4 linked regions of the Homo sapiens genome follow. The protein of the gene in region 1 binds, or shares a complex with, the protein of each later gene. Each region holds a gene or a part of one and is shown in the gene's direction. Other genes may lie near its edges.

Region 1 (5,784 bases):
CTATAAAAATACAAAATTTAGCTGGGTGTGGTGGTGCGTGCCTGTAGTTCCAGCTACTCCGGAGGCTGAGGCAGGAGAATCGCTTGAACCCGGGGCTCAGAGGTTGCCATGAGCCAAGATTGCACCACTGCACTCCACCCTGGGTATCAGAGCAAGACTCCGTCTCAAAAAAAAAAAAAAAAAAAAAAGGCTGGGCATAGTTTCGCACCCCATTAGTCCCAGCTACTCGGGAGGCTGAGGTGGGAGGATCGCTGGAGCCTGGGAGGTCAAGGCTGCAGAGTGCACTGTGATGGTGCCACTATGCTGCAGCCTGGGCAACAGAGTGAGACCTTGTTTCAAAAACCAAAACAAGACAAAAGGAGTAGCAAGAGACAGGGGCCAAGGCATGGCAGGTAGTGGGCTGTGTGGTGTGAGTGACGGACACCACCACCTGGGCACCGGTAGCAGGATGAGCTCGCCATAGAGTTGTGGTTAACAGAATGTGGTTTCCCATGGTGGGCTTGTGGGCAATATAGACTCTGGTTGCCTCAGCACAGTAGGTCATGAATTGTGGTTGTCGTGGCATCATGGGTAGTGAAATATGGTTGTCATGGCAACTCAGTATAATGGAATGTAGTTGTGATGGCACCGGGGCCGTGGTTGCAGGGGGCGGGCGCCATGGGTCGTGGCTGCAGGTAGCGGCTGCGGGTGTCTCTGCAGCGGGGCTGTGGAATGACTAAGCCTGGCGCTGCACAGTGCTGTGATGTGAGTAACAGTTTTGTTGCTGGGGCACCAAGTGGAATGGACTTCAGTTGCATGAAACCGAAGTGTGGGGACCCCGTTGTGGAAGGTGGTTGCCATGGCATTGTGGCTGGGAGAGTGTGGTTGCCACGTTGCTGTGGTTAACAGGACCCCTGGCCGTTCTGCTGTGGGTAATGGAAAGTGGCTGTCTCAGCACGGTGGTTAACAGAATGTGGTTGCCACGGTGTTGTGGGTGGTAGAAAGTGGTTGGCACAGCACTGTGGGTAATGGAATGCGGTTGCCATGGCGTTCTGGGGAGCAGAGTGTGGTTGCCATGGTGGTTGTGGTAGGAGACTGTGGTGGCCGGGGGACTGCTGCCGGCCACGTGGTTGCTGGGCAGGTGTGGGGTCAGGCTGTGGATCCCGGCAGCTCATCCTGGCGTCATGAGCCAGGGGTAGGGGCTGAGCTATGGCTCCCCTGCCGGTCAGTGCCCACCAGGGGCACGGTGACCTCCTAACTGCACCCCTGCCCCTTGGCCCCCAGGACACCCCTCGTGTTTACAATTCACGGTGAACATGACGGCAGCCGTGCGGACCTACCGCTGGCAGTGCATCGAGTGCAAATCCTGCAGCCTGTGCGGAACCTCCGAGAACGACGTGAGTGCCGCCCGCCCCCCGCGTGCCCTGCTGCCCGCCCCGCCTGGCACGTCCACCTCTGCCCCTTAAGCCTAAAGCCTGTGCCTGAGCCTTCCCTGGTGAACACCAGTCCCCTGTGTTATCATTATGCCGGTGTCCATAAATCGAACCTGGCCCTTTTTCCTCTTCATCTCTCTGGATCCTCCCAACCACCCTCTGAAGCAGGTGGTCTTGTTTCCACTTCACAGGGAAGAAACTGAGCTCAGAGAGGGAAAGAGACCTGCCCAGGGTCAGCCAGCTAGGGAAATGGCAGAGCTGAGATTTAAAGCCATGACCACTGCTGGCAGAGCTGGTATCAGATCATCTTAGGGTTGTTTAAAGCCTTCCACAGGCGGAGCGCGGTGGCTCACGCCTGGAATCCCAGCACTCTGGGAGGCTGAGGTGGGTGGACCACCTGAGATCAGGAGTTTGAGACCAGCCTGGCCAACGTGGTGAAACCCCATCTCTACAAAAATACAGAAATTAGCTGGGTGCCTGTAATCCCAGCTACTCGGGAGGCTGAGGCAGGAGAATGGCTTGAGCCCAGGAGGTGGAGATTGCAGTGAGCCGAGATGGCGCCACTGCACACTCCAGCCTGGGTGACAGAGCGAGATTCCGTCTCAAAAAAAAAAAAAACAAACAAAAACAAAAGCCATGACCGTTTCTGGCAGAGCTGCTATCAGATCATCTTGGTGTCATTTAAACTTCCCACAGACCGGGAGCGGTGGCCCACCTGTGTAATCCCAGCACTTTGGGAGGCTGAGGAATTTTGAGCCCAGGAGTTCTAGACCAGACCAGCCTGGGCAACATAGTGAGACTCCCGTCTCAAAAAAAAAAAAAAAAAAAAAAAAGTCGTGCATGGTGGCGCACACCTGTAGTCCCAGCTCAGGAGACTGAGGCAGGAGAATCACTTGAGCCCCAAGGAGTGTGAGGCTGCAGTGAGCTGTGACTGCACCACCGCACTTCCAGCCTGGGCAACAGGGTAGGACCCTGTCTCTAAAAATATAAAATAATAATAATAATAAGCCTTCCACAGAGCCTTATAAAACCCCCACTATAAATCGCAAAGGGACTGTCCTGAGGGATATGTGTTTGGCTAAGCAGTGTTGCGCACACATTTCCTGCTGCAAAGACCTTCTCAGAACCTTTCTCGGAAGGCCTCACCTCCCCCAGCCCCCTTGACCTAGCCCCTGCCCCAGCCCCCCACCCCCGTTTCTGGTGCCCGTGCCCCCAGGGTGCCAGCTGGGCGGGTCTCACCCCCCAGGACCAGCTGCTGTTTTGTGATGACTGCGATCGGGGTTACCACATGTACTGCCTGAGTCCCCCCATGGCGGAGCCCCCGGAAGGTGAGAGGAGAGGTGGGCATCCCATGGGGCGGGTGGGTGGGAACGCCATCTCCTGGTTGTGGAAGACTGTGTGTCCTCGGGGTGGGAAGGGGCTGGGGCAGCCCTCCCGGACCCGGGCCTGACTTCAGCTTCGGCTGCCCCCGCAGGGAGCTGGAGCTGTCACCTCTGTCTCCGGCACCTGAAGGAAAAGGCTTCTGCTTACATCACCCTCACCTAGGCCGGCTCGGCTCGCCGCGACTCTGGGGTGGTGCTCGCCTACCTGCCTCTCCGAGCTCCTCAATTCTCCCCCACCCTGAACATCCCGCAGGGGGAGGGGGAGAGGGGGAAGCCGAGAGGGGGCTGGGCCACCCCCTCCCCTCTGTGCAAGTGGAATGTCTGCCCTGTGGGTGGGTGGGCCCGGCCAGGGCCTCTCCCTCCCTCCCTCCCTCTCTGTCCCTTGGCAAATGGACACCAGGGGCTTCTCCCCTCAAAGCCATACCCCGCCTCTGGGCGGGCATGGGGGGTGGTGGGTGCCAGCCAGGGGCATGGACAGAGCCTTTTTCTAAAGAAAAAGACAAAAAGTTAAAAAAAAAAAAAAGAAGAAAAGAAAAGAAGTTAATATATACAAAGAGTCCTCCAAGGCCTGGCTGGGTGGAGGGGCGCTGCTGAGAGTGTCCACCGGGCACCCGCCTCTGCCGGCCCCCCGCCGGGCGCCCCAACCCCAATTTCTGGAGCTGCAGCCGTCCCGCGCCCCACCCAAGGTGGGCGCCTTCCCCTCTTGTGCCCAGGGCGGTGGGCGTGGTGTCCACCCGCCCCTCCTGGTGCCCACGGTGGATACTGCATGATGTGAACCTTGGTTTTGAACTCTGTTCCTGCCCCTCCCCGACCGCCCCAGCCTGTGCCCGCCCCGTGCCTGCCGTGGCTGGTGGGTGGCGGTGGTGGGGCCGGGTGGGCCCCCGCCCAGCGCCTGCTGGAATGAGAAGCACAGACTCCGCCACGGACTCCTTTTCTCTCCCTCCTCCCGCCCCGCCAGGCCTGGCGGCCCCCGCCCCCCTCGCTGGCCATTTTGGGGGAGTGAGGGGGCGTGGTTGTTTCTTGTGGTTGTGTGTGTTTGTTGTTCGGGTTTTAAAAAAGGGAAACTGAGACTGCAGGTGGGGGAGGTGGTGGGTTTTGGGGGGATGTCCCCTAATCCAGGAGTGCCCCCTCACTTGTCACCGAGTCTCCTCTATTGCCTGCCTCTGCTGTGAATTAACTTGTTCTGTGTATTAAACTGGGCCTGACCCCTCTGCCCACGACTGCCTCGTTCTCCCGTCTGGTTTGGGGCATCACCAAGAAGGAGGACCGGGGGTCGACGGGCCTTGTTGGGGGTGAGGCGACCAGCCAGCCCCTACCTCCATCCACCTCCTTCTTCCCCTGCCTGCACCCTGCCTCTCCCCGGCTTTGTCCCAGCTCCGCCCTGCTTTGCCAGAAAGGAGGAGAAGGGGGATGGGGTGGAGGGGCTCCCGCCCAGCCAGCTGTGGTTGCCCTGGCAACGGGCTGCTGCAGCTGCAGCGGGCGCAGCCGGGAGGGAGGCGGGAGCCGGGCCGGGGGAAGGGAAGGGCTGGGAAGAGGACGGTGGGTTGGCCCCTCCTGAGGCTGGGGTGGGGAACGGGGGTGTCAGGAGGTGTCATCCCAGACCCAGACATCTCCAGGGGGCTCCGTGTCCTGGATGTGGGGCAAATCAGCGGTGGCGATAAGGTGGAAAGAGAGGCGCTAAGGGAGGGCAGGAGGGTATCTAGACACGGGCACTGGGAGAGAGACTGAGATGTGGGCGACGGGTGGGGGGCGGGAGTGAGGAGTGAGGGAACTAGGACACAGATCAGGAGAGAGAAAGAGACGAGGACAGTCACACAGTTATTGAGAGAATCAGAAAAAAGAGCAAGAGGGTGCAGAAGGGAGAGAGACAGGAGGAAGGACCAGGAGAGAGGAAGGGAGCAGGGGTGAGAAGGAGGTTTAACGGCAGAGAGGGAATAACTAATAAAAAATAGCTGACATGCTGGGAGAGACGGGAGGAGGAGAAGGAGGACGGTGATTGGGGAAGAGCAGCAGCAGATTTAGGGAGAGGTCCTCCAAGAGGGGAGGCAGAGAAGGAGGTAACATCTATCAGGAGAGGGAAGAGTGAGAGGGAGCCACATTGCGGGTGGAGAGAGAGAGACTTGGGATCAGGGGCAGGCAAAGTCCCAGGACAACAGGCAGAGATGGGGAGAGACGCGGGCGGCAGGGGAGAGAAGGAGACAGACTTTAGGGGAACAGCAGAACAATCTGCAGAGAGAGCCGGAGGTATGAGGGACCCAGAAAGATTGGGGAGGAGAGACAGGGATGTCCGAGACGGGCAGAGGAAGCTGGAAACTGGGACACGAAGGGAAGGGCCGGGCCTCAAAGCACAGTTTGGGCGCGACCAGGGGCTGGCGTGCGCGCGAGTTGTGGGGTGCTGGAAGCAGCTGGCGTGGCTCCGGCGCCAGGAGAGGATGTGAGAACAGCCTGTTCCCAGGCTTCCCGCCCCCTTCGCCCGGTGGCGGGGGGAGGGCAGTGCGGGTTGAGGACGGGGCCTCGAGGAGGAGGAGGGCGGAGACAGGGAGGGTGTCTAGAACTCCAGAATTTTTAGGAGATGTGGGAATGGCTGGTCCTGCTCCTCCGGATGCCAGCCCCACGCCTTTTGGAAAAAGACATTTTTTGGAGGGGGCAGGGTCTGAGTCAGAGAAGCACTGGGTTTTAGCTCAGAGATGTGAAACTCCACGACAGGTACATGGGTAAGGGAGGCAGAAAGACCCCACCTGGCCAGCCCCGTCAGGAGGCTAGGCTTCCCTCAAGGGGCTGGACTTCGGGATTTTCAGGAGGAATTTCCTGATTCAGAAACCAGTTTGATCCCGGTTCCCAAAATGCAAATGTTCACCAGGCCAGATGCAGATCTGGGGCGATCAGGGGCTGCTTTCTACCCCCAAAGCATTCACTTGGCAAGTGGCAGCAGGGGTCTGCTCCCACCTCTACAGACAGAAGGGGGAAGAGTGTCCCAAATGCAGCCATGT
Region 2 (9,067 bases), on another chromosome or scaffold:
TGGACTTTTCCTCCTCTGAAATTACATTTAGACTGTAGATTTTTAGTAATATTGCCCTTTCTTACACAGTGATAAATTGGTCACTTTTTAAATGTAAGTAATAGAGCTTCCAGAAGTGGCTAATGGAATTGAATATGTTATGAAAATATTGGTTAATTCTTCTTTATTACATTCCTTTTAGCCAATGCTTTGGGTCTTAAATTCAGTGAAGCTTTAACAAAGAAAAATAATCTACAGGCATATTCCTTTGAATAATATCAAGGAAGAGAGTAGAAAAAGGCAAATTTCAGTAATTTCTACCTCTCCGCACTGTTCAGTGTGCATCAGTTTGGGATCAACTACAAGAAGCTTTAGACATGGATAATCCTTCGATATTTGTTTGGGTGGGTAGGGAAGTGGCTACAAAGCAGTTTGAGGAATTGCCCAGCAGTATTGAGACCACTAGGCTAATGTTGATTCACTATCCCTGAGACTTTATAGACAAAGTTACCTTTGACTTCTCAGGACTTTGTAAAGCCAGAGTGTATTTCTAGGGTCTACTGAGATTGAGAAACGTATATACCCTAGGCCTGACAGCCAGAATCTTTTCAGTCTCTGGGTGTTAGCGTTGAAGTGGTGAAAATATTATCACAAAGTTCTTTGCTTCTTTTCTACACAGTGCATTTCTATTTGGTGTACGCATTGGTTTTAACTAACCGTTTCTAGTGCATTTAATACTGCATTTTCAGAGCAGACAACAGTTTCAGTCTCAGTAAACATGATTTTGTTAGTGTCATTTTTTATTTATTTTTATTTTACTTTATTTTTTTGAGACAGGGTCTTTCTGTGTTGCCCAGGCTGGAGTACAGTGGCGTGATCATAGCTCACTGCAACCTCAAACTCTTGCATTCAGCTCATGCATTCAGTGAACAACTGAGCATTTACCATGTGCCGGGTACTTAAAGTATAACTCACTTAAAGTCCTCATAGCAGTCCTAAATGATAGATATTATTTACCTTCTTTTTCAAATGGAAGATACCTGAGACTTCATTTAGGAATTTTCTTTTTTTTTTGAGACAGGGTCTTTCTGTGTTGCCCAGGCTGGAGTGCAGTGGTGAGATCATAGCACACTGCAGCCTCAACCTCCTGGGCTCAGGTGATTCTCCCACCTCAGCCTCCTGAGTACCTGGGACTACAGGCACGAACCACCACACCTGGTTAATTTTTTGTATTATCAGTAGAGGCAGGGTTTTGCAGTGTTGCCCAGGCTGGTCTCGAACTCCTGGGCTCTCTGCCTGCCTCAGCCTCCCAAAGTGCAGGGCTTACAAGTGTGAGCCACCACACTTGGCCCACACTGACTCTTACTTGAAATATTTTGAGACTAATAAATTTTTGTTTTCTTAAATAAAATATAATAGACTTTTTTTGATCAAAAGATTAATTGGGCCAGGTGCAGTGGCTTGCGTCCGTAATCCCAGCACTTGGGAATTCCAGGTGGGAGGTTCATTTGAGCCCAGGATTTGGAGACCAGCTTGGGCAACATGATGAGACCCTGTCTCAAAACAAAACAAAACAAAAAAATACATCAGTTGTGGTGGCATGCACGTGTAGTCCCAGCTACTTGGCTGAGGCAGGGTCCTTGGAGGATCACTTGAGCCTAGGAGGTCGAGGCTGCGGTGAACTGTGTTGGCACCATTGCACTCCAGCCTGGGCAACAGAGCGAGACCTTGTCTCAAAACAAAACGAAACAAAACAAAACAAAAAACAAAAACAAAAAAAAACCAGATTAATTGTTTATGACATAGAAATTAAAATTTCTTAATTAGGAGTCAGTGTTTTTTTTGTTTTTTGTTTTTTGTTTTTTTTTTTTGAGATGGAGTCTCGCTCTTCTGCCCAAGCTGGAGTGCAGTGGTGTGACCTCGGCCTCCCAAGTTGAAGTGATTCTTCTACCCCAGCCTCTTGAGTAGCTGGGATTACAGGCACCCGCCACCACGCTCTGCTAATTTTTGTTATTTTTAGTAGAGCTGGGGTTTCACCATGTTGGCCAGGCTGGGCTTGAACTCCTGACCTCAGGTGATCCGCCAGCCTCAGCCTCCCAAAGTACTGGGATTACAGGCATGAGCCACTGTGCCTGGCCTACATGCATTTTCATGTTTGGTAATTTGGTAGGATGATTTGGAAAAAAAATCTAATCAGAATTAAATATTTTATAGTTTATTAAAAATTGGACTGAGACTGGGGGCTGTGGCTCACACCTGTAATCCCAGCACCTTGGGAGACCGAGGCCGGTGGATCACCTGAGGTCAGGAGTTCGAGACCAGCCTGGCCAATGTGGTGAAACTTCTGCTCTACTAAAAATGCAAAAATTAGCCGGGTGTGGTGGCACATGACTGTAGTCCCAGCTACTCAGGAGACTGAGGCAGGAGAATCACTCAAACCTGGGAGGTGGAGGTTGTAGTGAGCTGAGATCGGGCCATTGCACTCCAGCCTAGGCTACAGAGCGAAAGTGTCTCAAAAAATAAATACATAAATAGAGACAGGGTCTTACTGTGTTGCCCAGACTGGTCTCAAATTTCTGGACTCAAAGTAGTCCTCTAACCTCGTCCTCCCAAAGTACTGGGATTACAGTCATGAGCCACTGCACCCGGCCTATATTCACTGTAGTTATTAAAAATATAGGCCGGGCATGGTGTCTCACGCCTGTAATCCCAGCACTTTGGGAGGCCAAGGCGGGCAGATCACCTGAGGTCGGGAGTTTGAGACCAGCCTGGCCAACATGGTGCAACCCCGTCTCTACCAAAAATACAAAAATTAGCCAGGCGTGGTGGCGTGCGCCTGTAATCCCAGCTACCCAGGAGGCTGAGGCAGGAGAATCGCTGGAACCCGGTGGGCAGAGGCTGCAAGTGAGCCGAGATTACGCCACTGCACTCCAGCCTAGGTGACAGAGCAAGACTCTCTCAAAAAAAAAAAAATAAATATTTACCTGAGGCCAGGTGTAGTGGCTCACGCCTATAATCCCAGCACTTTGGGAGACCGAGGCAGGCGGATCATCTGAGGTTGGGAGTTCGAGACCAGCCTGGCCAACATGGAGAAACCCCATCTCTACTAAAAATACAAAATTAGCCAGATGTGGTGACGCATGCCTGTAATCCCAGGTACTCGGTAGGCTAAGGGAGGAGAATTGCTTGAACCCGGGAGGCGGAGGTTGTGCTGAGCTGAGATCGCGCCATTTTACTTCAGCCTGGGCAACAAGATCAAAACTCGGTTTAAAAAAAAGAAAAAATATATATATATTTACATCTATATATTTACATATATGTTTACATATATATGTATATTTACCTGAAATGTTGATTTGGTTCCATCTGAACAGCCTTTTTCAAGGACATTGTCTTTTTCAGCTATAGAGTTTGGCATTGTTTAGTTAATCTGTAAAATACAGATTGTAGTTATTATTTTTGAGACAGTCTCACTGGGTCACCCAGGCTGGAGTGCGTGGCACGCTCTTGGCTTGCTGCAACCTCTGTCTCCTGGGTTCAAGCAATTTTCCTGCCTCAGCCTCCTGAGTAGCTGGAATTACAGGTGTGTGCCACTCTGCCTGGGTAGTTTTTGTATTTTTTTAGTAGAGATGGAGTTTGGCCATGTTGGCCAGGCTCGTCTCAAACTCCTGACCTCAAGTGGTCCACCCGCCGCGGCCTCCCAAAGTTCTGAGATTATGGGTGTGATCCTCCGTGCACAGCCGGTCATTATTTTTTTATGTTGCTTTACCGTGTACAAAAAAAGTGCAGTACATTATATGACTCCTTTAGGAAACCTGTGCTTATTAAAGATTATGAAGTTACCTTGCGGATAAGTACAATGTATTTTGTCAGTTTTGTAAGATACACTTGAAGTATTTTTTTTTTTCTCGTTTGAGACGGAGTCTCGCTTTGTCACCCAGGCTTGAGTGCAGTGGCGCACTTTCGGCTCACTGCAACCTCCGCCTCCCGGATTCAAGCCATTCTCCTGCCTCAGCCTCCCAAGCAGCTGGGATTATAGGCATGCACCACCATGCCTGGCTCATTTTTGTATTTTTAGTAGAGACGGGGTTTCACTATGTTGGCCAGGCTGGTCTTGAACTCCTGACCTCAAGTGATCTGTCCACCTTGCCCTCCTAAAGTGCTGGGATTACAGGCATGAGTCACTGCATCCGGCCAGAGTTTTAATTTTTAATTTTTGTGGGTACATAGCAGGTCTATTTCAAAGTTTATTTTATTTTATATTTTTTGAGAGTGAGTCTCGCTCTGTCACCCAGGCTGGAGTGCACCCAGGCTGGAGTGCGGTGGCACGATCGCGATCTGGGTTCGCTACAGCCTGCGCCTCCTGGGTTCAAGCGATTCTCCTCCCTCAGCCGCCTGAGTAGCTGGGACTACAGGCAAGTGCCACCATGCACGGCTAGTTTTTGTATTTTTAGTAGAGACGGGGTTTCACTGCTTTAGTCAGGTTGGTCTTGATCTCCTGACCTCGTGATTCGCCCGCCTCGGCCTCCCAAAGTGCTGGGATTCCAGGTGTGAGCCACCACCGCGCCTGGCCCTTGAATACCGTTTATTAAAAATTTACGGGGCTGGGCGCGGTGGCTCACACCTGTAATCCCAGCACTTTGGGAGGCCGAGGCAGGCGAATCACGAGGTCAGGAGATCGAGACCATCCTGACTAACATGGTGAAACCCCGTCTCTACTAAAAATACAAAAAATTAGCCAGGCGTGGTGGTGGGCGCCTGTAGTCCCAGCTACTCGGGAGGCTGAGACAGGAGAATGTTGTGAACCTGGGGGGCAGAGCTTGCAGTGAGCCAAGATCGCACCACTGCACTCCAGCCTGGGCAACAGAGTGAGACTGTCTCAAAAAAAAAAAAAAAAGTACTATGTTGAGTATATTGGAGAAAAACTGACTTCAAATTTTCACTTGAAAGTATATGGGCCAGGTGCAGTACCTTATGCCTCTAATCCCAGTACTTTTTGGGAGGCCAAAGTGAGAGAATCACTTGAACCCAGGAGTTCTAGACTAGCCCAGAGAAGTTGGTGAAAACGGTTGTGTACAGAAAATTAAAAATCAGCCAGATGTGTTGGCACGCCTCTGTAGTCCTAGCTCTCTGGGAGGTGGAGGAGGAGGATCACTTGAGCCCAGGAGATTGAGGCTGCGGTGGCTGTCATTACACCACTGTATTCCATCCTGGGAGACAGCAAGAAACCACTGTCTTGAAAAAAAAAAGTATATGGTCCTTCAAAAACTAGGCTTGCTAGTTTTTGTTGCAAATTATCAATATAGTATAAGGAAGGGGAAAGTAGTATGTAGTTTTTAAAGTTTTTAAAATTGGCTGGGCACAGTACTGTAATCCCAGCACTTTGGGAGGCTGAGGCGGGTGGATCACGAGGTCAGGAGATCGAGACCATCCTGGCTAACATGGTGAAACCCCGTCTCTACTAAAAATACAAAAAATTAGCCGGGAATGGTGGTGGGTGCCTGTAGTCCCAGTTTATTGGGAGGCTGAGGCAGGAGAACGATGTGAACCCAGAAGGCAGAGCTTGCACTGAGCAGAGATTGCGCCACTGTGCTCCAGCCTGGGTGACAGAGCGAGACTCCAAAAACACACACACAAAAAAAGTTTTTAAAATTAATTATTTGAGACGGAGTCTGGCTCTGTCACCCAGGCTGGAGTGCATGGGGACAGGTGTGCGCCACCACACCCAGCTAATTTTTTGTATTTGTTTTTTAGTGGAGACGGGGTTTCGTCATTTCAGGCTAAGTGATGGAAGAAGACCCCATCTCAAAAAAAAAAAAAAAAAAGTAAATGATTGCCTTTTTATATGCTGTAAGTAAGTTTCAATGGTAGTAGCAGAAATTGTGTGCCCTTTGTCCTATGCATAATAATTGTAGACTTTGCAGTTGATGTAATTTTGACCATACACCACTCATCTAAAAAATATTTATTGTAATAGAGACATACCACATTAACCTTGAAATGTTGGATGGTAGTTCGAAAGTTAGCTCCGGCAAAAAAAAATAAAAAAATAAAAATTCTCTCGTCCAACTGAAAGGCAGGTATAGATGTTTTTCTTGCTTGGAATTGGAGGTTTAAAAATACTTTTTGAGGCTGAGTGTGGTGGCTCACGCCTGTAATCCTAGCGCTTTGGGTGGCCGAAGTGGGCGGATCATGAGGTCAGAAGTTAAAGACCAGCCTGGCCAACATAGTGAAACCCCGTCTCTACTAAAAATACAAACAAAATTAGCCGGGCATGGTGGTTGCGCGCCTGTAGTCCCAGCTGCTAGGGAGGCTGAGGGAGGAGAATCGCTTGAACTCTGGAGGCGGAGGTTGCAGTGAGCTGAGATGATGCCATTGCACTCCAACCTGGGTGAAAAACAAGACTCTGTCTCAAAAAAAAAGAAAAAAAATTTTTTGAGAGTATTGGCTACTCAAAGTGATATTGAACATGTAATTGCCAAATAAAACTTTTACATTTAACTCACTAATTTATTCTTTTCTTGTTGTGTTACCCATTATTTTTCCTTGCTGTGAAGCTTCCTAGCTGATGTGTCTACTACTGGTTTGGGCTTTTGACATTCTTTACATTAATATGGATAATATTTCACTTTTTTTTTTTTTTTTTGGTAAAAAACACAGGAGATTTATCTTTGTGAGGTCGAGGCAGGGGCAGGTCACATGAGGTCAGGAGTTTGAGGCTAGCCTATCCAATGTGGTGAAACCCCGTCTCTACTAAAAATACAAAAGTAGTTGGGGGTAGTGGCTCATACCTGTAATCCCAGCTACTCTGGAGACTGAGGCAGGAGAATGACTTGAACCCGGGAGGCAGAGGTTGCAGTGAGCCGAGATTGCACCGCTGCACTCCAGCCTGGGTGACAAGACCGAAGCTCCGTCTCAAAGAAAAGAAAAAAAAAATTAACCGTCTTAACCATTTTTAAATGCACACACATATTTGTTTTTGTAAGCTCCTTTATAGCACAGAGCGTGTCTCAGACATCTATAAATTTCCCATAACGTAAGTACTTAGTAGGTACTAGGAAGTAAGCCAACATTTTCTCCTGCAAAAATTGTACTAGTTTTTGAATGCCTGTCTTTATCTTGCAGTATGTTCATGCGGATGCTCCTACCAATAAAACACTGGCTGGGCTGGTGGTGCAGCTTCTTCAGTTCCAGGAAGATGCCTTTGGGAAGCATGTCACCAACCCGGCCTTCACCAAACTCCCTGTAAGTACATCAGCTTACTGTTATTTGGGCATCCTCAGTTGCTGTATACTTTTAGGTGTAGCATCCAGCTTTTTTCCTTTGCTGCTGCTAGCGTGTAGAATTTAAAAAAAAAAAGCAAAAAACAAATTTTAGTTATAGAATATTACTATTTTTTAACTGTAGGAAGCTGCTTTTTGAAGAGGCATTTAACATTTGCATTAAATATTGCAGCAGTCATTGTGAAGACCTAACAATATTTTACTATGTTGCAGTTCCCTATCCTCTCGCCGTACCGAGTCTTCTCCATGCTTTCTCCTGATGCAGCTCTTATGCCATAAATAGAATTTATGGAATTTTTTATATTTTGTAGGTGAGATACCTTCTGAAGTTGTGTGAGAATATAATTTTGGTGTCCTTGCAATTGTGTGTTTTATTTTTGTTTTTACAGACAGGATCTTGTTCTGTTGCCCAGGCTGGAGTGCAGTGGTTTGATCACAGCGCACTGCAGCCTTGATCTCCCGGCTCTAGCCATCTTCCCACCTCAGGTTCCCAAGAGGCTGGGACTACTAGCATGTGCTACCACGCGCATATGGGTGACTTTTAAATTTCTGTAGTGATGGGATCTTGCTGTGTTGCCCAGGCTGGTCTCAAATTTTTGGCGGGAAGGCGATCCTTCTGCATTGGCCTCTGAAAGCTCTTTGATTACTGGTGCGAGCCACCACACCAGCCCTTCTCTGCTATCTTTATTTTATTTAATTAATTTATTTATGAGACAGAGTCTCGCTCTGTCACCCAGGCTAGAGTGCAGTGGTGTGATTTCGGCTCACTGCAACCTGCAGCGATTCTTGTGCCTCAAGACTCCCGAATAGCTAGGATTACAGGTGCGCGCCACCACACCCAGCTAATTTTTGTATTTTTAGTAGACACATGGTTTCACCATGTTGGCCAGGCTGGTCTTGAACTCGCAGCCTCAAGTGATCCACCCACCTCGGCCTCCCAAAGTGCCGGGAGTACAGGTGTGAGCCACCACACCCAGCCTTTATTTTTATGTTATGATATGTTATGTTATGTTATATTATATCATGTTATTTTTTGAGATACAGTCTTGTTCTGTCGCCCAGGCTGGAGTGCAGTGGAGTGATCTTGGCTCACTGCAACCTCTGCCTCCCGGGTTCAAGCGATTCTCCTGCCTCAGCCTCCTGAGTAGCTGGGACTACAGGCATGCACCACCCACCGCACCTGGCTAATTTTTGTATTTTTAGTAGATATGGGGTTTCACTGTGTTGGCCCCGCTGGTCTTGAACTCAAGTGATTTCCCTACCTCGGCCTCCCAGAGCACTGGGATTACAAGTGGGAGCCACTGTGCCCAGCCTCTGCTATCTTATACTCCTTTATTTATATTTTCGAACTCTGATTTTACAAATACTAGCTTTTTAGGAATTGTCTGTCATATCTTTCCTCATAATTTTTGTCTTTTAATTCATTTTGGTTTTCGTTGTTTCTAGCGTGCTGTTAGCTGCCTGTATGAATCTATGATCAGTAGACCTTTTTTGTGGGGACTGTTCTTGATCACTAAATCGTTTAACAACTTACTGATCTTTCAAATATAATTGAGAATAAGAAATAATAGGCGGGGCGTCGTGGCTTATGCCTGTAATCCCAGCACTTTGGGAGGCTGAGGTGGGCGGATCACGATGTCAGGAGATTGAGAACATCCTGTCTAACAAGGTGAAACACCATCTCTACTAAAAGTACAAAAATTAGCCGGGCGTGGTGGCGGGTGCCTGTGGTCCCAGCTCCTTGGGAGGCTGAGGCAGGAGAATGGCATGAACCCGGGAGGCAGAGCTTGCAGTGAGCCGAGATT
Region 3 (5,919 bases), on another chromosome or scaffold:
AACTACATGTGTAATGTGAGCCTCTGGAGAGGGCCACCTGAAACCCCCCTCCCCTGCCATGAATCGGGGGCGGGACAGAGGCCCCGCATGGGAGGGGGAGCAGGGAGGGGGAGCGGGGCAGGGGGTGCTGCTCACGGGGAAGGCAGGCCCTCACCACCTCCGCTGGGATTTCAGGAGGTGATCCAGGACTTCCAGGCCTCCGTGCTGCAGGTCTCAGACTCCCCCTACGATGAACAGTGAGTGTGGCTCAGGGCTTTGGGGTGGGAGAGAGGGCAGAACCGGCACTCTTGGGGTGGGCTGGGGGGCTCTGGTGCTGCCCACGCACTGATCCTTCTTGAGCACCCCAGGCAGAGTCCTGCTCCCTTCTGGGTAGGGTGGCTGCACAAATGCCCACAGTGCACTACGAGATGCCCAATGGCTACAATACAGACTACGGCGCCGAGCGACTCCGCATCCCTGAGGGCCTGTTTGATCCCTCGAACGTCAAGGTTTGGCTGTGTGGCGAGGACTGGGGTGGGTGCTGGCTGCAGTCCCTGGATCCTGGGGCGTGGGGGAGGCTGGGAAGGATTGCAGGGGTCTGGGGGGAAGGGGGAGAGAGCCCACAGCCCCAGTCACCTCTCTCTGCAGGGCCTGTCGGGGAACACCATGTTGGGTGTGGGCCACGTGGTGACCACCAGCATCGGCATGTGTGACATTGATATTCGCCCGGTGAGGCCAGGCCGGAGCTGAGGCTCGGCAAAGGGGCCCAGGGGAAGTGGGGAGACGGGGTTGGGGGGCTGCCCCCGCAGCTCACTCCTTCTCCCTGCTCTCAGGGCCTGTACGGGAGTGTCATTGTCACCGGCGGGAACACACTGCTGCAGGGCTTCACTGACAGGCTCAATCGAGAGCTTTCCCAGAAGACCCCACCGGTAGGAGCCCACCCCTGACCCAGAGCCCTGGACACCCGTCCTGGCTCAGCTGTCCAGGACTGAGTCCCTTCATCCTTCCCATGTCCTTCCTTCTGTTCTGGCCACCAGAGCAGAACCCCTGCCCCTGTGGCTTCCCAAGTCTTCCCCTCTCCCCCAAGCCCTGTCCCTTCCCAGAACCTAGGTGTCTGCTTCCCCCAGCCCCTTTTTACCCCCAGAGCATGCGACTGAAACTCATTGCCAGCAACAGCACCATGGAGCGCAAGTTCAGCCCCTGGATCGGGGGTTCCATCCTGGCCTCACTGGTGAGAGGAAAGGGACCTGGCCTAGCACTGACTGTGGGGGAGAGGGGAGACCCAGACAGTGCCCGCCACTTTGACTGCCTCTTCGTTCATTCATTCATTCAACAAACATTTAGTTTTGAGAAATGTCAGTCAATGAATGTTCCCAGAAGGGTGAACAGGACACAAATCGGGGGGCAGGGGCCCGGTATGGTGGCCCACACCTGTCATCCCAGCACTTTGGGTGGCTGAAGTGGGGGGATGGCTTGAGGCTAGGAGTTGAAAACCCAGCAGGGGAACATAGCAAGACCCATCTCTACTTTTACAAACTGGGGAGAAGAGGCTGCGCACAGTGGCTCATGCCGGTAATCCCTGCAGTTTGGGAGGCCGAGACGGGTGGATCACTTGAGCTCAGGAGTTCGAGACCAGCCTGGCCAACATGACGAAACCTTGTCTCTACTAAAAATCCAAAAATTAGCCAGGCATGGTGGTGCATGCCTGTAATCCCAGCTATTCAGGAGGCTGAGGCAGGAGAATCTCTTGAACCCAGGAGACGGAGACTGCAGTGAGCTGAGATCGTGCCACTGCACTCCAGCCTGGGTGACGCAGTAAGACTCTCAAAAAAAAAAAAAAATTGGGAGTAGAGGGACAGGTAGTTGGAGAGATTGGTCAGGATGAGATTTTGGTGATACACCCACTGTGCTCAGTCAGCAGAGGGGAGACCCTGATGTTTTGGGGCAAGGGAGTGATGTGGCAATGCAGGCATGATTGGAAAGACTGCCAGGCATGAGTCTTTGGGGTCGGGGTATGAGCTGGGGTCAAGGGGACCTTACAAGGAGGCTGTTTTGATTGTCCCGGAGTCATAGCATGGGTAGCAGTGGGGATGGGGTGGACAGCAAGGGGCAACTAGTAAAGGAGGCAGGCAGGTTGGTTCTGGGGCAGGAGGTGGTAAGTTCAGTCTGGACCTGCTGCTGGGTTCGAAGGAAGGTACTGAGCAGGGAGCTGGAGTTGCAACCCGCATCTGGAGGGTATCAGTCACACAGAGGGGACAGTGGGGCCATGACAGACAAGGAGGACATCCACGAGAAAGGAAGTCCCCCAGGGAGACAGAAACCAGGGTCAGAAAGACAGAGGCTGGCAGTCTGAACTTAGCTCAGGGCTGAAGCATGTCAGCCACACAGTTCTTGTTTTTTTCCTTTTTTTGTTTTTGTTTTTGTTTTCGAGACAGTCTCACTGTCGCCCAGGCTGGAGTGCAGTGGAGCAATCTTGGCTCACTGCAACCTCCATCTCCTGGGTTCAAGCGATTCTTCTGCCTCAGCCTCCCGAGTAGCTGGGATTACATGCGTGAGCCACCACGCCTGGCTAATTTTTGGATTGTTAATAGAGATGGGGTTTCACCGTGTTGGCTAAGCTTGTCTCAAACTCCTGACCTCAAGTGATCTGCCCATCTTGGCCTCCCAAAGTGCTGGGATTACAGGTGTGAGCCACCATGCCCGGCCTGAAATTAAGTATTAATAATATATCCTGGACAAGTGGAGTGGCTCACACCTGTAATCCCAGCACTTTGAGAGGCCAAGGCGGGAGGATCATTTGAGCCCAAAATTTCTAGACCAGCCTGGGCAACAAAGCGAGACCTCATCTCTACAAAAAATTTAAAAAGCAACTGGCAATGTGGCGCATACCTGTAGTCCCACCTACTTGGGAGGCCAAGGTTGGAGGATCACTGGAACCTGGAAGGTTGAGGCTGCAGTGAGCTGTGCCACTGCATTCCAACCTGGGTGACAGAGCAAGATCCTGTCTCAAAAAAAACCCAAAAAAATTGGGTGTGTATTTTCCACTTAGAGCACGTCTCAATTTGGACCAGGGCTGGTGAGCTACAGGAAGCTAGTGGCCACTGCATTGGACAGCACATGTGTGTAGGCTGAGAAAGATCAAAGAAGCCCAGCCGTGGTAGCTCACGCCTGTAATCCCAACATTATGGGAGGCTGAGGTGGAACGATTACTTGAGCCCAGGAGTTTGAGACCAGGCTGGGCAACATAGTGAGACACCATCTCTACAAAAAATAAAAATTAGGCTGGGCGCGGTGGCTCACGCTTGTAATCCCAGCACTTTGGGAGGCCGAGGCGGGCGGATCATCTGAGGTCAGGAGTTTGAGACCAGCTTGGCCAACATGGCGAAACCCTGTCTCTACTAAAAATACAAAAATTAGCCGGGCGTGTTGGCACGCGCCTGTAATCCCAGCTACCCAGCAGGCTGAAGCAGGAGAATCGCTGGAACCTGGGAGGCGGAGGCTGCAGTGAGCCAAGATCGCACCACTGCATTCCAGCCTGGGCGACAGAGCAAGACTCCATCTCAAAAAAATAAAATAAAAATAAAAATAATTAAAATTAAAATTTTAAAAAAATAGAGAGAAGGGACACTCTGAGATGCTCATTGCAGGAACCCTCAAGGGGCAAGTTGTAATGCCGAAGGCTGCAGATGGGGTGCCACAGTGTTGGAATGGTGAGGTGGAGGGAATATCTTCCTTGGGAAAGAGGGAGACTGGCGGTGTTCCAAAGCCCTGATGGAGTGAGAAGAGGACACCTGGTGGGGAAGGACTGTGTGTGTGTAGGGGGTGTTGAGTGCCAGGTGCAGGTTGCCTGGCCTGGGGCTGTGCGTGCCATCCCCCCAGCTCAGGAACAGGGCCTAGCTCAGGGCAGAGACTGCTGTTCAATAATACTTGTTGAATGAATGAATTATTGATTGAATGATATGAAGAGGATACTCTCCCTCTGAATATGAAAGGGGACAGACCGAGGAGGGGAGGATGAGGTGGGGAGGGGCTTCAGAGGGATGTGAACCCAAGGGGTGGTTGGGGCCTGTTGGAGGATTCCCAGGGGCTGCACCTGCCTGTCCACACCTCCCTCCAAGGCCACCCTGACCCTGATATTACCCCCTCCACCCAGGGCACTTTCCAGCAGATGTGGATCTCCAAGCAGGAATATGAGGAGGGCGGGAAGCAGTGCGTGGAGCGAAAGTGCCCCTGATGGCACTCCTCCCCACACACCTGCTCCCAAGCTCAGATGGAAGTCCCTTAACCCCCATGCCACATTGCCCCCCTCCTCCTTTCCCTCTTGTCCTCATTAATGGTGATGTTTCTGGGTTGAAAGAAGTAAAAATGTTTTAAGAAAAAAAAGTTTGGCCTCCGTGGGGTGGGGAGTGGGCACAGGGGTCTGGAGGGAGGTGAGGGGAGGGAGTCTCACTTCTACACCCATGCCGATCCCACAGTGGGTGCTGGGACACAGCCCCAGGGGCCATGGATTCCTCAGGTTTCCTAGGGGTTGTGACCCAGGGAGGGCCACATGACGAGGACCGGGGGTTGGGGGAGTTGCTGGGGGCTAACAGTTGTGGTGGGAGGTGGGAGGGGCTGCAGGGTGCAGTGGAGGGGCACGGCCTGGGGTGAGTGTGGCAGGAGGTGGGTGGAGCAGGAGGTGAAGCCTGGATGGGCGGAACAGGAGGTGGGGCCTGGTGGGCGGGGCCTCAGCGTAGGCCTTAGGTCTCAGGGGAGCAGCACGCCTGAGCACCCCAGGACCTGCGCTCAGGTGAGATGCGCTATGCCTTCCTTCCTGGGGCTCTTGGTGGTGACAGACATGGGGCGGGGACTAGGGCGCTGGTGCATCCCAGCAGCTCGGAACTTCTCTGGACCTGAGTAGGAGCTGATGTTTCCCAGGGGAAACCCGAAAGGGAAACTTGGTGGGACCCTGAGCCCTCCTCTTCAGAGCTACTTGTCTTGGGGCCCTCGGAAGGGTTTGGGGACCTGCGCCCCCTGCCTGTTTAGCAGTTTATGCCTGTGACATGTTTCTGGGGTGAGGCTAACTGGCCTTTCATCAGCCTCAGAACCCAAAGAGGTAGAAACCCATGTGATCCAAGTCCTTCGGTGACCAAACGGGCCGGTGCCCAGGGAGGACCATGACTTGTCCAGGGTCACCCAGCTCTGCCCACACCTTGGCGGGGACTCTGATCACTCCTCCCCACTGACCCACATATCCCTGACCCCAGGACCCCTATCTGGGAGCTCTCGCTGGTCTCATCTGACCATGTGCTCCCACCTGTGCCCCTCCTTCTCCAGCAGCCAGCAGGAGTCTGAGAACGACCTTTCAAAAGAGACACACATGCACACCACCAGACCAGACCCCCAAGTCACACCACTGTGGTGCCTCCAGCTTAGAATGCCACTGGGGCAAGTGTCAGGACAGGGAGGACAGCTGATATGTCACAGGACCGGGGCACTGGGGGACTCTGAAGGCCAGATGAGGAAGGGGCAGATGTCTTAGGGGTGAATCTTCCACCTGGGCATGGCGGGGCTTAGGAAGGGGTCCCCAGGATCCAGGGAGGGGTAAAAGCAGGAGAGGGGAGGGGGCACCCATGTCTCTGCCCTCCCCCACTATCGGCCCCCTTCCCCCACCCCTGATGGGAACTAGGAGGCCAAAGTCCGCCCCAAGGTCAAAAAATTGATTGTTTTGCAGGGAGGAGGCAGGCGTGGGGCTGTGGAGAGATTGGCAGGGGAGAGCACAGCCCCTTGTGCTCTGGCCTGGACCCGGGGGCCACGTCTGGAAGGCTGGACTGAGGCCAGGACTGTGCCCCCACCCTTGGGGGTGGTGAGGAGCAGCCTTGGTTCAGGCTGCCTGCCAGGACTGATAAGGGGCCCTCCTAGGGCTCCCACAAACGGTTTATCGGTTTATCGCTGGGGGAC
Region 4 (8,705 bases), on another chromosome or scaffold:
CTGAGGTCAGGAATTCGAGACCAGCCTGGCCAACATGGTGAAACCCCATCTCTACTAAAAATACAAAAATTAGCTGGGCGTGGTGGTGGGCACCTGTAATCCCAGCTACTCGGGAGACCGAGGCAGGAGAATTGCTTGAACCTGGGAGGTAGAGGTTGCAGGGAGCCGAGATTGTACCACTGCACTCCAGCCTGGGCGACAAGAGCAAAACTCCATCTCAAAAAAAAAAAGGGCCGGGCACGGTGGCTCATGCCTGTAATCCCAGCACTTTGGCAGGCCGAGGTGGGCGGATCACGAGGTCAGGAGATCGAGACCATCCTGGCTAACATGGTGAAACCCTGTCTATACCAAAAATACAAAAAAATTAGCTGAGCGTGGTGGCGGGTGCCTGTAGTCCTAGCTACTCAGGAGGCTGAGGCAGGAGAATGGCGTGAACCTGGGAGGCGGAGCTTGCAGTGAGCTGAGATCACGCCACTGCACTCCAGCCTGGGCAACAGGGCGAGACTCCATCTCAAATAAAAAAAAAGAAAAAAAAATGTATATATGCATTAATTATGTACTTGTACTGTTAAGCCGCTACCATGGGAACGTTTTAAAACACAAACATATCTAAAAAATTGAAAAATGTAAAGAATGATAAAAACAAACATGAAGAATCAGGGCGCGGTGGCTTACGCCTGTAATCCCAGCACTTTGGGAGGCCGAGGCAGGCGGATCACGAGGTCAAGAGATCAAGACCATCCTGGCTAACACGGTGAAACCCCATCTTTACGAAAAATACAAAAATTTGCCAGGCGTGGTGGTGGGCGCCTGTAATCCTAGCTATTCGGGAGGCTGAGGCAGGAGAATCACTTGAATCTGGGAGGTGGAGGTTGCAGTGAGCCGAGATCGCACCACTGCACTCCAGCCTGGGCGACAGAGCGAGACTCCGTCTCAAAAAAACAAAACAAAAAACATGAAGAGAAGTTCTGTATTCTCTCCCTGAGTTGCAGTGGATCATCTTTTGCGTCCTATGTTAGAACCCCACTTTGGAGACATTGCTCCACCAATACTGGTTTACAGTCTGTATTCTGTAGACTCACCCCAGGTATTCCAGAAGTGTATTTCAGGGGTAGGATTAGGGCTGCCACCAAGAAGAGTTCTGGCTTCTACCTCCTCATCAATCAGCTCTCTCTCTTCTCTATGTTTGCTCCTGAGCATATGTATATGAATTCAGTTGAGGAAAGTATCCTCTGCTTTCAAAAATGTTTAACACTTAACCATTCTTCCACAGAGTGATTTGGTCAGATTCAGTATCAGACCATTAAAAGCTTACAGATACATAGATGGAGATAAAGGCCTGTCAAAGACAAGAATCATTTATGAATGTACATAGAGAAATAAGTTAAATTAATTTTTGGTTGGAGAAGTGGGGAAAGTAGCAAGAAGTTTGAAGCCCTAGAATAATTGTGACTGGAGAGAATTACTATATTTTGCAATCAGGTGGAGACAATTTTTGGAGAAAGTAGGATGTCTGGAACTATTAAATTGAAGGCTTGAATTAGGCAAAATCTGTCTGATAAAATGACTCTCTGTTTTCGCAGTCAACACAAAGAAAGACTCAGAGTCGGCCCCAGTCAAAGGCGGCACCATGACCGACCTGGGTAAGACAGGAGCCTCTTGGGCACGGCAGTCAGAGCCAAGGGAAGGGGAGGGCTCAGCTGCCCCCTTTTCGCTAGCCTGATGGGCTTTTGGTAGGGCTTTCTTGCCCCTCAGGAGGCTCCAGCCTTACATCTTGGTTTTTCTCTTTCAGATGAACAGGAAGATGAAAGCATGGAGACGACGGGCAAGGTGGAGCCAGTTTAGAGAGGCCCTACCTCTCTATGTGATTCTGATTTGTGATTATAAAGTTCATTCTGCCCAAACTTTTCACTGCCCAGACTTTACCCACTGTAGACTAATTCCAGCTTTGTTCAAAACTCTGACCCTTTCAGAGTCCTGGGGCCCATGACTGCTCAGTCCCATCACCCATCTTTAGTGTCCACATTCCTGGGGTGTGGGAGAAGCAGAGGGTTGCTAGGGAGGAAGCAGGAATGCTGAGTGTCCAGCAGCCTCCATACTCGTAGGATGAGGATGAGAACAGTACGGGGAACAAGGGAGAGCAGACCAAGAATCCAGACCTGCATGAGGACAATGTGACTGAACAGACCCACCACATCATCATTCCCAGCTACGCTGCCTGGTTTGACTACAATAGGTATGGTTGTCCCCAACTTCTCACTGAGTCCTTATTTCCCTGCCTCCAGGGGTCAACAGGCTGTTCTTCTCCCTGCCTCCTCCAAATAAGTTATTTTTTCCTCACCCAAATAGACCAGAGTACACTTTAGTTTTAGGGGAGCTCCTTGTGTCCTTTTGAGTCTTACAGCCTGTGGGATGTTCTCCCCAAGCTTCTAACTTCAGCAATTTCGAGCTCTTTTCCTTCTTTGCCTTCTAGGCTTTTCCTCCCTTTGGGGCCCCCATCCCTTCACCAATGCCTTCTTCTGAAACCATTCTGGCTTTTCTTGCAGTGTTCATGCCATTGAGCGGAGGGCTCTCCCCGAGTTCTTCAACGGCAAGAACAAGTCCAAGACTCCAGAGATGTAAGGAAATCTCATCTCATGATTCTCCTTCTCCCTCCTGTCCCCACATTCACCCTTCCTGATCCAGTAACATTCAGTTTAGCAAACATTTCTTGAGCATCTTCCATGAGCCAGGCACTATGCTAGGCTTACAAAGGCACAATATCTGCCTTTAGGCAGCCCTGGCCTAGCATGTAGACACATGTTCTTTAGGATTTGCCCAAGGGTGATATTAAGCATGTTCTATACATAACAAGTACCTACTCCAGTGCCTCAACTTCTTTTTAACAGGGTATAGAGCCTTTAAATCCATATTACTGATATCGTCTATACTGCAGATATTCCTAGCACAAAAGTTTTGATTAAAGTGTAAATTACTATTACCAGGCTGGTTCCTGAGAGTAGGTTTTAATAGAAAAACAAGAGAAGGAACTAATAGAAGACCAGTTTATATAAATTAAGGGATGGAGAGGGCTCACTGGGAAAGAAGTGTAGGAGCCACGGTGGCTCACGACTGTAAATCATCCCAGCTACTTGGGACACTGAGACAGAAGGATTCCTTGAGGCCAGGAGTTCAAGAATAGCATGAGCAACATAGCAAGACTCCCATCTCTAAAGAAGTGAAAAAAAATTAGCTGGGCCTGGTGGGGCATACCTGTGGTCCCAGCTACTTCGGAAGCTGAAATGGGAAGATTGCTTGAGCCCAGGAGTTTGAGGCTGCAGTGAGCCATGATCACACCACTGCTCTCCAGCCTGGCTGACACGGCAAGACCCCGTATCTAAAAAAATTAATGAACAAGGCTGGGTGTGGTGGCTCACGCCTGTAATCCCAGCACTTTGGGAGGCCGAGGCGGGCGGATCACAAGGTCAGGAGATCGCGACCATGCTGGCTAACATGATGAAACCCCATCTCTACTAAAAAGACCAGGCGCGGTGGCTCATGCCTGTAATCCCAGCAATTCGGGAGGCTGAGGCGGGCGGATCACCCGAGGTCAGGAGTTCGAGCTCAGCCTGACCAACATGGAGAAACCCCGTCTCTACTAAAAATACAAAACTAGCTGGGCGTGGTGGCACGTGCCTGTAATCCCAACTACTAGGGAGGCTGAGGCAGGAGAATCGCTTGAACCCGGGAGGCGGAGGTTGCAGTGAGCCGAGATTACGCCATTGCACTCCAGCCTGGGCAACAAGAGTGAAACTCCGTCTCAAAAAAAACAAAAAAACAAAAACAAAAAAAATTAGCCGGGCGTGGTGGCATGCATCTGTAGTCCCAGCTAGTCTGGAGGCTGAGGCAGGAGAATCACTTGAACCTGAGAGGCAGAGGTTGCAGTGAGCCGAGATCACGCCACTGCACTCCAGCCGGGGTGACAGAGCGAGACTCCGTCTCAAAAAAAAAAAAAATTAGCTGGGCGTGGTGGCAGGCGCCTGTAGTTCCAGCTACTTGGGAGGCTGAGGCAGGAGAATGGCATGAACCTGGGAGACAGAGCTTGCAGTGAGCCGAGATTGCGCCACTGCACTCCAGCCTGGGCGACAGAGCAAGACTCCGTCTCAAGAAAAAAAAAAAGATTTTGCCTCAGGCCAAACCTGCTTGGCTTTGGATAAGACATGGCAGTCTTCTTTGGTTAGGAATACTTCAAGATAACCACATTGATGAGGTGGGTGAGACTGAGAACTGAACAAGTTTTCTTCCCAGCTATTCCACAGCTTCCCCTCTCTGGGGGTCCCTCCGTGTTTTTTCTTCATAGCTTGCTATGGTTCTCTCTTCCTTCTCTTCCTGGAGAAAGCAGTATGTGTGAAAAGAAAGTAGTGATCAGGTGAAATGAATTCAACATGACATGCAGGCAGGGTTGGAGTAGGAACTGAACTCTTGGTATAAAATAGTAAATGATGGCTGGGCATGGTGGCTCACGCCTGTAATTCCAGCACTTTGGGAGGCCCAGGCGGGCAGATCACGAGGTCAGGAGTTCGAGACCAGCCAGGCCAACATGGTGAAACCCCGTCTCTACTAAAAATACAAAAATTAGCTGGGTGTGGAGGCACGCACCTGTAATCCCAGCTACTTGGGAGGCTGAGGCAGGAGAATCACTTGAGCCCGGGAGGTGGAGGTTGCAGTGAGCCAAGATCTCATCATTGTACTCCAGCCTGGGCAACAAGAGTGAAACTCCATCTCAGAAAAAAAAAAATAGTAAATGATGATAATTGCCTGCATCTATTGAGAGCTTAGTATCTCCCAGGCACTATACTAAATGTCCAACCTACATTGAGTAATTTAATCTTTACGTCAACCTTAGAGGTAGATATCATCTTCAGTTGACAGATAGGGTATAGAGGAGTCAAGTCACCTGCATAAAGTCACAGAGCTAGTAAATAAAACCAGGATCTGAATCCTTTAATCTGGCCCATGATCTGAAACTTTACACTGTACCACATGATAGCTGCCATTTTTTTGAGCCCCTACAATGCGCCAGGCACTATACTAGTACTTTATAGACCTCTCAACAGACATTCCATTTTACAAATGAGGAAACTGAGGTTTAAAAATTCGAAGTAAATTGCCAAGGTCCTCATGGTAGAACTGGGATTTGAACTTAGATCTTTTCAACTTCAAAACATATGTTTTTTACCGTGGTATGCTGACTAGCTATATGCATGAATAAGGACTTCCTTTTAACATCTGAGTTTGGAAATGAGTATTTTCTTAACTTCTAATTCCTTGTTTAAAAATTGTATAAAATGGCTAGGTGCAGTGGCTCATGCCTGTAATCCCAGCACTTTGGGAGGCTGAGGCAGGAGGCTCACCTGAGGTCAGGAGTTTGAGACCAGCCTGACCAACATGGAGAAACCCTGTCTCTACTAAAAATACAAAATTAGCCGGCCGTGGTGGCACATGCCTGTAATCAGAGCTACTGAGGAGGCTGAGGCAGGAGAATCTCTTGAACCCAGGAGGCGGAAGTTGCCATGAGCCAAGATCATGCCATTGCATTCCAGCCTGGGCAACAAGAGGGAAACTCCATCTCAAAAAAAAAAATTGTATGAAATATCCCTAAGTATAGCCAAGGAGATAATTCATTTAAAGAAAACCCCATCAAGGAAAAGTAAGACATATTTGAAACCCTTTCATCTAGCACATAGCAGGCACTCAGCATGTAGAGTCAAATAATCTACTTTTTTCCATCTTTATCATGCAGGAGAAGTCATTAGCTCTCTTACCATTTTTTCCTTTAGCCCTTTAACAAACATTTATTTTTCTTCTTCTTGTTTCTCTCTCTCTTTCTTCTAAGCTACCTGGCCTATCGAAACTTTATGATTGACACTTACCGACTGAACCCCCAAGAGTATCTTACCTCTACCGCCTGCCGCCGAAACCTAGCGGGTGATGTCTGTGCCATCATGAGGTGGGTCTTGTGGCTGAGGGGAAGGGGGTACATGAGGATGCCTGCCTATGGATGTGTTTTGGCAACAGTAGAGATGCCAGCAAGGAACACAGAGGAGCAGACAGAAAAAAGCACCTCTAGAGAAAGGTGAAGTACAGGTTTGGGGAATGAATGACTTGAGGGATTAGCAATGGCATTCTCTGAAGTGTAGAATATAGGACAAAGAAGGAGCATGTCTGTAATTGAAAGATACTGGTTCAGGCCAGGTGTGGTGGCTCATGCCTATAATCCAAACATTTTGGGAGACCAAGGTGGGAGGATTGCTGGAGCCCAGAAGTTCGAGACCAGCCTGGACAAAATGGCAAAACCCCATCTCTAGAGAAAATGCAAAAAAATTAGCTAGGCATGGTGGCACGTGCCTGTGGTCTTAGTGACTCAGGAGGCTGAGGTGGGAGGATCCCCTGAGCCCTGGAGGTGGAGGCTGCAGTGAGCGGTGATCACACCACTGCACTTCAGTCTCTCTTAGGGAAAAAAAGAAAGAAACTGGTTCAGTTTTACTAGCTATTCAGGAAGAAATGTTCGGTAGGTAGGTAGATATAGAGATTGGCCCAGGCTGAAGATGTAGACTTGGGTGTCACTGGCATTTAGGTGATAAATGAACAACTGGAGTAGGTGAGATTTCTTAAGGAGTACAATGAACAGAGGAAAAGGCCGGGGTTGGGTGGGGAGGGGGTTTATGCCCCTTCTACCCCCCACTTTTCCTCTTCCTCGTGCACCTTTCTGGCTATCCGTGTGACCCTGTCTCTGCCTCTCTCTGCACAGGGTCCATGCCTTCCTAGAACAGTGGGGTCTTATTAACTACCAGGTGGATGCTGAGAGTCGACCAACCCCAATGGGGCCTCCGCCTACCTCTCACTTCCATGTCTTGGCTGACACACCATCAGGGCTGGTGCCTCTGCAGCCCAAGACACCTCAGGTAGGGTGAGGTGCTATGGGGATGGGGCGGGTTGGGAAGATTGGGCTTCTTTGAACTTTTCTTTTTCTGGTTTTTAGGGTAATGGTTCAGGAGTGTTTTGAGGCTTCTTCCTTTTCCATGGGATGCAAAGGGTCACGGGAATCAGCCCCATGTGTTTAGCATCCTCTCTCAGCCTTTGTACCTAAGGCTGTAATTGCTGAGGGAGAAGAGATTATCCTTTTACTCAAGGAGTAGACAGGCTAATGTAGGGGAGTCAATAGAGAAAAATGGCTTAAAATTAACTTGCATGAAATTTTTAAACTTTGTCATCTTTGCCACATTTTTTCATTTTTGCCTCATAATTATCATCTTCATTTTTTTTTCCATTTCCACTTCATCCATTACAAAAATTAGGAAGAAGGTTATGTGGCTTGCCCAAGGTCACAGAGTACCAAATCTAGGATTAGAACCTAATTGTCCAGCTCCTAAGAGAACCTATAAAGATAATGTGAATATGTATGGATATCATGCCAACGACATGTCTTATTAATCATGAAGGGAACATGGAACAGTGGCATGAGTGCCCCCAGAGCTTGTGGGCCGCCCAGCATATGGTCTTGAGGCCTCCAGGGCCTTGGCCTGGTCATTTCCTGCCCAGCCTCCATGACGCCAAGCTCTGTCCCCCAGGGCCGCCAGGTTGATGCTGATACCAAGGCTGGGCGAAAGGGCAAAGAGCTGGATGACCTGGTGCCAGAGACGGCTAAGGGCAAGCCAGAGCTGGTAGGTGGGGTGCAGACCCTGCTGGGCTGCTCATTTTCCCCTTTATTGGGGGGCCCCTGCCCGGGAAGAAGAGACATGAGAGCAGAGGAACTACAGCAGTAAGGGAGGAAGTCCCACCCAGGGGTGTCCCTGGCTTTGGGAAAGAAGCTCCTTCTGTCTGTTTTTTCTCTCTGTCAGCCCCTGGCTCCCGGTGGTCACTTGTACTCACCTGTTTCTTTCCCTCCACAAATAGCAGACCTCTGCTTCCCAACAAATGCTCAACTTTCCTGACAAAGGCAAAGAGAAACCAACAGACATGCAAAACTTTGGGCTGCGCACAGACATGTACACAAAAAAGAATGTTCCCTCCAAGGTAGGAGGTGCGGGCCGACTCTAGGGGTAGAGAATGTTCGCTCCTCAGAGGTCACAGGCTCCTTTCTTCTCACCTGCCTGTGTTTCCCCTGCAGAGCAAGGCTGCAGCCAGTGCCACTCGTGAGTGGACAGAACAGGAAACCCTGCTTCTCCTGGAGGTAATTGGGGCAAAGAAAAGAGAGTTTTTCTCTGAAAACAGAAGTGGGCTCCGTGTAGAGGCTCACGCCTGTAATCCCAGCACTTTGGGAGGCCAAGGCAGGAGGATCACTTGAGTCCAGGAGTTCGAGATGAACCTGGGCAACATAGTGAGACTCCGTCTCTACGAAAAATTTTAAAAATTAGCCAGGTGTGGTGGCACACACCTGTGGTCCCAGCTACTCAGGAGGCTAAGTGGGAGGATTGCTTGAGCCTAGGAGGTCAAGGCTCCAGTGAGCTTCAGGACCAGCTCCAGGCTGGGGATTTGGGCCATTTCATTAACTTCATATCCTTTCTTAGTGCTACTTCAAGATCCCCCTTGGACCTAGCAGAGTACACAAATACCAGAACATAGAGAACTTTGAAACCAGCTGCCCTTAGTAGGATGGGGGGAGTCAGCCTTCGAGAAAAGTGGCTAAGTAAGCGGAGTTATGTCTCCACCACTACCACCAGGCA

The links.
Region 2: DPF1 (region 1) and SMARCC1 share a complex: the UniProt entries of both Homo sapiens proteins name them as parts of the neuron-specific chromatin remodeling complex.
Region 3: DPF1 (region 1) and ACTL6B share a complex: the UniProt entries of both Homo sapiens proteins name them as parts of the neuron-specific chromatin remodeling complex.
Region 4: DPF1 (region 1) and SMARCC2 share a complex: the UniProt entries of both Homo sapiens proteins name them as parts of the neuron-specific chromatin remodeling complex.

What each region holds. Positions count from the first base shown.
Region 1 is NC_000019.10:38,209,236-38,215,019, reverse strand, and holds the end of DPF1 (zinc finger protein neuro-d4), read left to right. Parts: intron 1-1,263; coding exon 1,264-1,376; intron 1,377-2,628; coding exon of another isoform or gene 2,629-2,658; coding exon 2,659-2,740; intron 2,741-2,886; coding exon 2,887-2,957; 3' UTR 2,958-4,014; downstream 4,015-5,784. UniProt on the Homo sapiens protein: May have an important role in developing neurons by participating in regulation of cell survival, possibly as a neurospecific transcription factor. Belongs to the neuron-specific chromatin remodeling complex (nBAF complex).
Region 2 is NC_000003.12:47,770,974-47,780,040, reverse strand, and holds part of SMARCC1 (SWI/SNF complex subunit SMARCC1), read left to right. Parts: intron 1-7,104; coding exon 7,105-7,224; intron 7,225-9,067. UniProt on the Homo sapiens protein: Involved in transcriptional activation and repression of select genes by chromatin remodeling (alteration of DNA-nucleosome topology).
Region 3 is NC_000007.14:100,641,540-100,647,458, reverse strand, and holds the end of ACTL6B (actin-like protein 6B), read left to right. Parts: coding exon 1-15; intron 16-174; coding exon 175-236; intron 237-373; coding exon 374-488; intron 489-627; coding exon 628-708; intron 709-812; coding exon 813-908; intron 909-1,106; exon of another isoform or gene 1,107-1,123; coding exon 1,124-1,210; intron 1,211-4,132; coding exon 4,133-4,213; 3' UTR 4,214-4,362; downstream 4,363-5,919. UniProt on the Homo sapiens protein: Involved in transcriptional activation and repression of select genes by chromatin remodeling (alteration of DNA-nucleosome topology).
Region 4 is NC_000012.12:56,171,935-56,180,639, reverse strand, and holds part of SMARCC2 (SWI/SNF complex subunit SMARCC2), read left to right. Parts: intron 1-1,583; coding exon 1,584-1,643; intron 1,644-1,792; coding exon 1,793-1,830; intron 1,831-2,105; coding exon 2,106-2,236; intron 2,237-2,546; coding exon 2,547-2,618; intron 2,619-5,875; coding exon 5,876-5,989; intron 5,990-6,790; coding exon 6,791-6,944; intron 6,945-7,610; coding exon 7,611-7,703; intron 7,704-7,935; coding exon 7,936-8,055; intron 8,056-8,149; coding exon 8,150-8,212; intron 8,213-8,702; coding exon 8,703-8,705. UniProt on the Homo sapiens protein: Involved in transcriptional activation and repression of select genes by chromatin remodeling (alteration of DNA-nucleosome topology).